2 separate regions of the Homo sapiens genome follow, and region 1 is linked to region 2. A link means that fine-mapping ties the variant in region 2 to the plasma level of a protein whose gene starts in the linked region. Region 2 holds a variant in brackets. A gene starts in the other region. All regions are shown on their forward strands. Region 1 holds the start of SPOCK1 (SPARC (osteonectin), cwcv and kazal like domains proteoglycan 1). Region 2 overlaps LOC124907804 (a long non-coding RNA gene).

Evidence for each region. PIP is the chance, under the fine-mapping model, that this variant and not a neighbour inherited with it causes the effect. Protein levels are from antibody-based Olink assays in UK Biobank. Linkage for the fine-mapping came from a reference panel and not from the study's own genotypes, which makes the PIPs less certain.
Region 1: it holds the start of SPOCK1, and the variant in region 2 is fine-mapped to the plasma level of the SPOCK1 protein (UK Biobank, PIP 0.98).

Annotation. Positions count from the first base shown.
Region 1 is chr5:137,498,652-137,503,993 of GRCh38, forward strand. It overlaps SPOCK1 (SPARC (osteonectin), cwcv and kazal like domains proteoglycan 1), which reads right to left and starts at 675. Exons shown (of 11, transcript NM_004598.4): 1 at 528-675. RefSeq lists a silencer at 626-845.
Region 2 is chr2:67,537,942-67,543,320 of GRCh38, forward strand. LOC124907804 (a long non-coding RNA gene) reads right to left here. Exons shown (of 2, transcript XR_007086623.1): 1 at 5,192-5,379. Among named protein-coding and RNA genes, the nearest start is that of LINC02831, 24 kb to the right of the region's middle. The variant C/A (reference allele first, on the strand shown) is at 3,267.

The DNA.
Region 1 (5,342 bases), not on the chromosome of region 2:
GGGACCCCGCGGCGGGCACGGGCAGCGCTCGCGCACCTGGGGCGCCTGTCGCGCCTCTAGACCCAGGGACCCCTCTCACGAATGGGGGACTCATCTACGAACGAGGAGGCTGCGTCACGAATCCGAGGCTGCCGTCCAACTACAGGGGACCCGTCTCGTCTATTCTCCGAGTGCCCCACAGATGCCGCCCTCCTATCAGGGGCTTGGTACCCCTCCCCAGAAGCGGGGAGCCCGGGTCCGCACGCCGCACTCCCACAGACGGTGCGGTGCACACGGCTTTGGGGCAGGAGAGGGGAGAACAGGGCTCCAGCAGCACCCGAGCTCCGGCAAGCGGGGTGGGGGCTGCCAGCAGCTGGGGGTCCCCGGCGACAGCTAAGGGAAAGGTCTCCCTTGAGCGCCCTGAGGTCTCGGGGGTAAGAAAGGCGCGCGGAGGTAACCCCAGGCCCTGACCCTGCCAGCCCCCTAGGCGGCCGCGGGGAGGTCCCAACTACTCCAAGTTGGGGCGCGGGGTTCCTCTGGGCACGTACCTTGGGGGCCGGCCCGGGTCCCCTAGTCCGAGTTGCTCGAGCTCCCGCGGCACGGTCGCCGGGAAGGCTGATCGCCGGCTCGCGCCCCTGCGCTCCTGCCACACGCCGCCGCCGAGCGTCTGGCCGCTTTGTGAGCCCGCAGCGATGTGCTCTGCTCGCTCGCTGGCTCGGGCGCGGCGTCCGCGGGCGGAGGAGGCCGAGCGCGCGAGCCAAGGCTCTGGCGCCCCCTGGTGGCCGCGCGCTGCCTGCCCGACAGCCCGGCCGCCCCAGCCCGGAACGTGGTCATTCACATCTTTTTTTTTTTTTTTTTTTTTTTTAATTTACTTCTATTTTTTTTTTTAATTATACTTTAAGTTTTAGGGTACATGTGCACATTGTGCAGGTTAGTTACATATGTATACATGTGCCATGCTGGTGCGCTGCACCCACTAACTCGTCATCTAGCATTAGGTATATCTCCCAATGCTATCCCTCCCCACTCCCCCCACCCCACCACAGTCCCCAGAGTGTGATATTCCCCTTCCTGTGTCCATGTGATCTCATTGTTCAATTCCCACCTATGAGTGAGAATATGCGGTGTTTGGTTTTTTGTTCTTGCGATAGTTTACTGAGAATGATGGTTTCCAATTTCATCCACGTCCCTACAAAGGACATGAACTCATCCTTTTTTATGGCTGCATAGTATTCCATGGTGTATATGTGCCACATTTTCTTAATCCAGTCTATCATTGATGGACATTTGGGTTGGTTCCAAGTCTTTGCTATTGTGAATAATGCCGCAATACACATACGTGTGCATGTGGCTTTATAGCAGCATGATTTATAGTCCTTTGGGTATATACCCAGTAATGGGATGGCTGGGTCAAATGGTATTTCTAGTTCTAGATCCCTGAGGAATCGCCACACTGACTTCCACAATGGTTGAACTAGTTTACAGTCCCACCAACAGTGTAAAAGTGTTCCTATTTCTCCACATCCTCTCCAGCACCTGTTGTTTCCTGACTTTTTAATGATTGCCATTCTAACTGGTGTGAGATGATATCTCATAGTGGTTTTGATTTGCATTGCTCTGATGGCCAGTGATGATGAGCATTTTTTCATGTATTTTTTGGCTGCATAAATGTCTTCTTTTGAGAAGTGTCTGTTCATGTCCTTCGCCCACTTTTTGATGGGGTTGTTTGTTTTTTTCTTGTAAATTTGTTTGAGTTCATTGTAGATTCTGGATATTAGCCCTTTGTCAGATGAGTAGGTTGCGAAAATTTTCTCCCATGTTGTAGGTTGCCTGTTCACTCTGATGGTAGTTTCTTTTGCTGTGCAGAAGCTCTTTAGTTTAATTAGATCCCATTTGTCAATTTTGGCTTTTGTTGCCATTGCTTTTGGTGTTTTGGACATGAAGTCCTTGCCCACGCCTATGTCCTGGGTCATTCACATCTTAATGCAGGGCTAAAATCAGCTTTCAGGCCCAGGCTGGTGCGAGACAGAAGAGGGGACTGAGGATATGAGGCCAAGACGCAGGCCAGCATGGAGGCATTCTCAAAAGGAAGGCCGTCGGGTTATCTAGATCAAAATCACCTGGGTGGAGAGAGAAGCGAACTTCCTAAAAATGATTCCTGCCCCACCGCCCCACTTGCTGAGTCAGCATTCCTTAGGAAAGCTTCCAAGTCTGCACTTTTAATGAGCTCCCGAGGCGTTTTTTATGCATGGCAAAGTTTGATAACCACCGTCCTGCCATTCCCTGGATAAGTGAATATCTGCACTGCCCATCCCAAGTCATGCACCCACCTGCATCTCTGCACTCCCATGCCCTATGCCATGCTTACCACTGTCCTGCCCCTTGAGAACCGGCCCCAGCACTAACCTGTTGAGTTCCCCTAGATGGGAGGGAGGGGAGAGAGGAAAAACAGATCAGGCTACAGGGACAGAACACTGAGAAGCAGAAGTCTGGTCCTGCCCCATCCCCCACCCCGTTTCCAAATACCAGCAATGTTTGGTGAAATAGGGCTGGAAGGGACTTAATGTCTTCCCCTGCCTGTATACAAGTGATACTGGCCTGTCACCTTTCTCTGTACAACTACACCCCATTCCCCAGACACCTGAGCGCTCTTTCAGAACAAGTCTGACCATCCCATCACCCCTCTCCCCTCAACACAAAATTCTTCACAATGCTTTCCTGATAAAGACCAATCTCCTGGCTGGAGCCCCCAGGCCCCGCACATCTGGACCCCGCCTCTCACCCCACTCTCTCCTCCTCTGACCTTCTGGACGGGCTGGCCCTGACCCCAGTGGAAATGGGCTCCCTCCACTCCTGGGTATTCACTTCTGCCTGGGCTGCTGTCCATACCCAGTCCCAGCACAAGTCTCATTAATTCTGCTCTCTGCTTATTCATCCTCACTTCTTCAGAGACTCTTGCTACACCTGTGGACCAGGCCAGCACCTGCAGTGATGCTGTCTTTGAGAACACAGTGCTTCTCTGGCTGTAAGCTCAACTGATATCACTTACTCTATGTCTGCCTCCCCACCTGGCTAGAGCTCCTGAGGGCAGAGGCTATCTTTGTCTTGTTCACCACTTCTCCCAGTGCCCAGAGTTGACACATTGTTAGTGCTCAAAAAAATTTGATAAATGAATGAATGATTTAATGAATGAATGCCACCCAACCATGTCTGGAACAACAACACATCTCAGCCAGCATGCCAACAATAATGTATGGTGTGATCAATAATAAGTTGCGCTACAAATAATTTGGTTACATATAATAGTTGAATGTGTGGAAGTCAGCAGATCTGTGGTTTTCCCAACATTACTCTGCCTGATTTGCATTCCTAGAAACTTTCTCAAAAGGGAGAAAAAGGAATGGAGTCACAGCTACTATGTTGGGGACTGCACATCATCCACGGTTTATTTTATCATGGAATGCTGTGGGTGGGTGCATCAGAGTGGGAGAGAGGTTTAGAAATGATGAAGAGACTGTTTCTTATGTTCATAGAAACCCAAGTAAGCAGCACTTCCCCATTTATCTGCCCAGTGTGACAGCAAGATCTCTCCAAGGAGTTGTCCCTAAATGTCACTTTTGCCTCCTCACCTCCAACTCATTCTTCAACCCACTCCAATCTGCCTTTCATCCTCACTAACTGAAATGACTTGTCACCATCAGCAGCCTCCTCCAAGTCACCAGATCCAGTGGGTACCCTCGATCCTCCCCAGTGTGGCCTCTGAGCAGTTTCTTTTGGCTCCCGTGGCTCCAACCCTCCTGGCTTTCCTGCTCCCCCCATCATTCCTGCTGACATTCCAGTGCTTCTTAGGGCTCAGACCTATCCCTCTTCTCTCCCCCAAAACCCTTTCCCCAGGTGCCCAAGTCCAGTCCTATGCTGAGATCCTCCAGGTACATTTCCAGCCCAGAAATTCCAATGACTTCTGACTGTACCTCCAGCTTCATACTTTACATCTCCTCAATGCCCCACGGGCACGTCAGATCTGTGACCAGGCCAAAACAGAAGTCTGGATGTCCTCCATGCCTCTGTGTTCTCCTTTCATCCCTGTTAGAGTGAATGTATCCGCATCCACATGGCTGCTTAAGTCAGAACCCCACAAGTCATCTCCAGTTCATCCATCTCCTCGCCCCTCACCTCCCATCCATCAGCAAAGGGGGTCCATCCCACTTTCGAACACCCCCTGGAGCCACCCACTTCACCCCACTTCCACAGATACTCCTGAGTCCACAAGACCATCACTTCTCACGTGAAGAACGACGGTGCTTCTTGGCTGGTTTCCTTCTTTCCTTTCCCTTGCAACCCATTATCCACTCAGGTGAGAGCAATCTTTTTTTAAGAGAGCCTTCTCTTTTTAAAATTTTTGTGGGTACATAGTGGGTGTTTGTATTTAGGGGGTACATGAGATGTTTGATACAGGCATGCAATGCATAATGATCACATCACGTAGAATTGGATATCCATCCCCTCAAGTGTTTATCCTTTGTGTTACAAACCATCCAATTACATTCTTTTAGTTATTTTTAAATGTACAATTAACTTATTGACTATAGTCACCCTGTTGTGCTATCAAATACTATGTCTTATTCATTCTTTCTGTTTTTTTTGGACCCATTAACCATCCCCACCCTCCCTGCAACCCTCCACTACCCTTCCTGGCCTCTGGTAACCATCCTTCTACTCTCTATGTCCATAAGTTCAATTATTTTGATTTTTAGATCCCACAAATAAATAAGAACATGTGACATTCGTCTTTCCATACCTGGCTTATTTCACTTGACATAATGATATCCAGTTCCATCCATGTTGTTGCAAATGACAGGATCTCATTCTTTTTATGGCTGAATAGTACTCCATTGTATATATGTAGCAATCTTTTTAAAATAGAAATCACTCCCTTAAATAAAACCTTTCAATAGCTTGCCATGACAGTAAAACAAAAATTCACATTCCCTCCCATGACTCACAAAGCTTTGCACCATCTGGTCCCTTACCTCTGCCCTTCATTCCCTAGGTTCTAGCCAGATTTCTTCTCATGGTTCTGCAAACTTAGCAAGCTTGGGCCCCACAGGTCCTCTCTTCTGGCCAGGCTCTCTGCCCACAGTGTTCCTTTCCCTGCTTTTCACAGGGCAACTCCTTCTTAGCTGTCAGGTCTCACTCAAATGTCACCACCTCATTGAAGCCTTCCCTGACCACACCTTCTAAGATAGACACTTCCCTCCCAGCCACATCAGCATTCTCTCTTGTTGTATCTGGTTGCTCAGTCGTTCAAGAGTGTTTTACTCCTTTGTTTATTATCTCTCTCTTCCTCAATTTGAATATTAATT
Region 2 (5,379 bases):
AAGATCAGTTGATTGTAGGTATTTGGCTTTATTTCTGGGGTCTCTATTCTGTCCCATTGGTCTATGTACCCACTGGTACTTTTATACCAGTGCCATGCTGTTTTGTTTACTGTAGTCTTGTAATATAATTTGAAGTCAGGTAATGTGATGCCTCCAGATTTACTCCTTTTGCTTAGGATTGTTTTGGCTGTTCAGGCTCTTCTTTGGTTCCATATGAACTTTAGAGATTGTTTTATCTGTGAAAAAAGACATTGTTATTTTGAAGAGAATTGCATTAAATCTCTACACTGCTTTGGGCAGTCTGATCATTTCTACACTATTGATTCTTCCATTTCATGAGTGTGAAATGTTTTTCCATTTGTTTGTGTCATCTATGATTTATTTTCTCCATGCTTTTAACTTTTTCTTGTAGAGATCTTTCACCTTCTTGGTTAAGTAGATTCTTAGGTATTTTTTTTCAGCTATTGTAAAATGAATTAAGTTCTTGATTTGCTTATCAGCTTGATTGTTATTGGTGTATAGCAGTGCTGTTGATTTGCATACATTGATTTTGTAACCTGAGACTTTACTGAATTCATCTACCAGATCTAGGAATTTTGTTGGAGGAGTGTTTAGAGTTTTCTAGGTATCAGATTATATCATCACCAGAGATAGTTTGATTACCTCTTTGCAAATTTAGATGCCCCTAATTTCTTCCTCTTTCCCTATTGTTCTGGCTAGCACTTTCAGTGCCATGTTGAATAGAATTGTTGAAAATGAGCATCCTTTTTTTGTTCCTGTTCTGAGAAGAAATGCTTTCAACTTTTCCCCATTTAGTATGATGCTGGTTGTGGGTTTCTCATATGTGGCTTTCATTAGTTTGATGTATATTCCTTCTGTGCCTTGTTTGCTGAGAAGTTTTATCATGAAGGGATGCTAGGTTTTATCAAATGCTTTTTCTGCTTCTACTGAAATAATAATTTTTGTTTTTAATTCTGTTTATATGGTGAATCACATTTATTGACTTGTATATGTTGTACCATCCCTGAATTCCTAGGATGAAACCCACTTGATCGTGGTGAAGTATCTTTTTGATGTACTATTGGATTCAGTTTGCTAGTAATTATTGAGGATTTTTGCATTTATGTTCATTAGTGATATTGATCTGTAGTTTTTGTTATTGTTATGTCCTTTCTGGGCTTTGGTATGAGGATGATACTTGTTTCATAGAATGAGTTAGGGAGGATTCTCTCCTTCTCAATCTTTTTGAATACTTTCAGTAGGATTGGTATCAGTTATTTGAACATCAAGTAGAATTCAGCTGTGAATCTCTCCAGTCTTGAGCTTTCTGGGGGTGTGGAGGGGGAGATTTTTTTATTATGGATTCAATCTCACTACTTGTCATTGGTCTGTCCAGGATTGCTTTTCTTCCTGATTCAAGCTTGGGGGATTGTATGTTTCCAGGAATTTATTCATCTCTTCAAGATTTTCTAGTTTGTGTGCATAGAGGTATTCATAGTAGTCTTGGATGATCTTTTGTATTTTTGTGTTATCAGTGATAATGTCTTCTTTTTATTTCTGACTGAGTTTACTTGAATCCTCTCTCTCTTTTTTGGTTAATTTAGCTATTGGCCTATCAATTCTGTTTATCTTTTCAAATAATCAAATTTTGTTTCATTGAGTCTTTGTATTGTGATTTTTTGGTTTCAGTTTCATTTAGTTTTGCTCTGAGCTTTGTTATTTCTTTTCTTCTGCTAGCTTTGGGTTTGGTTTGTTCTTGTATTTTTAGTTCTGTGAGGTGTGATGTTGGGTTGTCAATTCGTGATTGTTTGGCCTTTTTGATGTAAGCATTTAGCACTATAAACTCCCCACATAGCACTCCTGCTGTGTTCCAGATATTTTGATAACTTGTGTCACTGGTTATTATTTATTTTGAAAAATTTTTTAGTTTCCATTTTGATTTCATCATTGATCCAAAGATCGTTCAGGAGCAGGTTGTTTACTTTCCATGTATTTGTAGAGTTTTGAGAGTTCCTTTTAGAATTGATTTCTAGCTTTATTGCATTGTGGTCTGAGAAGATATTTGATATAATTTCAATTTTTAAAAATTTATTACACTTGTTTTGTGGCCTATCATACAGTCTATCTCAGAAAATGTTCCATGTAATAAGAATAAGAATGTATATTCTGCAGTTTAAGGATAGAAATTTCTGTAAATGTCTGTTAGGGCCATTTGTTCTAGAGTCAAGTTTAAGTCCAGTGCTTCTTTGTAGAATTTCTTCCTCAATAATCTGTCTAGTGCTGTCAGTGGAGTATTGAAGTCCCACACTATTACTGTATTGCTGTCTACCTCTCTTTTTCGGCCTAGTATTATCTGTTCTATAAATCTGGGAGCTCCAGTGTTAGATGCAAATATATTTAGGATTGTTATATCTTTTTGTTTAATTCATCTATTTATCATTATAATTTTTAAATCTTTGTTTACTGTTGTTGATTTAAAGTCTGTTTTATATGATATAAGAATAGCTACTTATGCTTGCTTTTGGTTTCCATTTGTGTGGAATATTTTTCTCTACCCCTTTGTTTTCAGTCTATAAAAATATTTAAGAGTTAAGTGAGTCTCTTAAAGGCAGCAGATATTTGGATTGTGGATTTTGTTTTTTTGGTTCTGAGATAAGGTCTCACTTTGTTGTTCAAGCTGGAGTGCAGTAGCACAATCATAGCTCATTATAATCTCAAACTCCTGGGTTCCAGTGATCCTCCAATTCCAGCCTCCTGTGTAGCTGGGACTACAGACCCACACTACCATGCCCAGCTAGTATTTGCTTTATTTTTTGTATAAACAGGCCTTGTAATGTTGCCTAGGTTTGTCTTGGCAATAAGACCTGGCCCCAAGCAATTCTCCCACATCGGCTTCCCAAATTGTTGGGATTGCAGCCACAGTGCCTAGCCTGGATTGTGTTTTTCAATCCATTCTACCAATCTATATTTTTTCAGTTAGGCATTTAGGCTACTTACATTCAAAGTTAATACTGATATGTAAGATACTGTTCCAGTCATTATGTTGATTGTTACCTAGTTGCTTTGTATTCTCCATTGTGTTACTGTTTTTAAACCCTTTGAGTTTTACAGTTTTCAGTGTTTTCATACTGGTGAGTGTCAACCTTTCATTTCAATATTTAGAACTCCTTTTAGCATTTTTTTCTAGTGCCAGTCTAGTGGTGACAAATTCCTCCAGTGTTTGGTGATCTGGGAAAGACTATTCTTCCTTCATGTAAGAAATGCAG[C/A]CTTCAGGATACAACATTTTTGGCTGACAGTTATTCTGCTTAAGGAAACTAAAGATAAAACCACAGTCCCTTCTGGTTTATAAAGTTTTGGCCGAGAAGTCTGCTGTTAGTCAGACAGGTTTTCCTTTATAAGTTATTTGATTTTTTTCTCACTTTTCTTAGAATTCTTACCCTTCCATTGACTTTAGGTAGCCTAATGACTGTATGCCTTGGTGATGTTCTTTTTGCAATTACTATTCCAGGAATTCTTTGAGTCTTTTGTATCTGGATGTCTAAATCTCTGGCAAGACCAGGGAAGTTTTCCTCAATTATTCCTTCAAATATATCTTCCAAGTTCTTGTGTTTTTTTCTTTTTCTCTTTCAGGAATACTTTTGATTCTTAGGATTGGATGTTTCATATTATCCTATATTTCTTGGAGACTGTGTTCATTTCTTTTATTTTTTTTTTTAATTTTTGTTGGTTTGGGGGTTAATTCAAAACGCTCCTCTTGGAGCTCTAGAATTCTTTCTTCTCCTTGGTCTAGTTTAGTGGTAAAAGTTTCCACTGCATTTTATAATTATCTGAATGAGTCTTTCATTTCCAGAAGTTCTGTCTGGTCTTTTTAAGAATATACTTTCTTTAGAAAAATTTTTATTCATGTCCTTAATTTTTTTTATTTATTTATGTTGGTTTTCAACTTTCTATTGGATCTCATTAAGCAGCTTTGTAATCAATATTTTGAATTATTTATCTGGTATTTCAAAGTTTTCATTTTAGTTTGGATTATTGCTGGAGAGTTAGTGTGATACTTTGGGGGTGTTGTAAAACTCTGTTTTTTCCTATTGCTAGAATTATCTTTCTGGTCCCTTCATATCTGAATAGACTATTTCTTCATATTGTTTTCAAATTTATTTCTGATGGGACTTGAGTTTTTTTCCCCCTTGAGGTTTTGACTATAATATATGTATAGTTTATGACCACCTAGCTTTGGCTCTGAGTGCTTTCAGTGGCAAAGACTATATGAGTTCCTTGGTAACAGAGAATCTTTGTATGATGGCTTTCTCAGATGCCACTTGCAGTAGCAATGTGCTAGGTGTCTGAGCAGGTTCACTGTCTTACATGGGGCCAGGATGACAGAGGTCTCATGAAGCTCATCTCATTCCCCAGTGGTGAAGCTTCTCTCATTCCCCAGTGGTGCACACTTTTTCTTCCCCAGTAATTTTTTCACTGGGTTGAACAGTTCAGCTTTCAAGCCAATAAGAGACACTCACAGATAAGAACTACCTGTGGCTGAAGCAGGTGTGTATACGCAATACCCCAATTGGGGACAAAAGTCCCATCCATGTCGATGGTGTCCGGGGGAGCTTCTGGTGAAATGCACTGAGGTTTTTACAGTGAAAAGAAAGGGAGCCACCTCAGCTCCATTACCAGGCCAACAGAAAAGCTATCTATCTCCTCACGAAGCCCCTGACCCAGTGTTCCAGATATTCAGATCAGACAGTCACCTCTGTCCATCTATAGGAACACTGAAATTCCATGTGGAGAGACAGAGGGACTCCACCTCTCACACAAGCCTGACCCTGGAGGGTGCACCTCCCATGGGGACACAGTCACCCCAAAATGCTCCAGTAAGATTGTCTATAGTACCTGCATGGAACTCCCATGGGAGAAACCCCAGATGTTTGCAGCAGTGGGTGGGAGGAAGGAGAAGTCTCCTTCCCCAAGTCCTTTTTGGAGCACTGGGGCTGTTTGACATCTGGGAAGGAACCTCAAGTCTTCCCCCACTGAGCCCAGAACTGCCTTTGCTGAAAAAGGCACAAGCAGGAATTTCTGAGACATAAAAAAGCTTGCACTCTGGTTCCCTTTGTTCCATGCGGTGCTCTCTTGGCATGTCACACTCCCCCTTACCCTAAGTGTGGCAATTCCTGAGAGCCAGACTACTTACTGTGAAGCCCACTGCTCCTCTGGGTCCAGCCACCCTGTGGGGCTGTCACAGTCCAGGCTGTGCTGGGGAATGGTTGCAAAGGATATGGTGATGTGAAGAGACAAGGTTTGAAGGTCTCCGAGCAAAGCGAAGTCCCACAATGAGTGCACACCCAGTATTGTGCCCGCTACTACAGCCCAGGTCCAGGG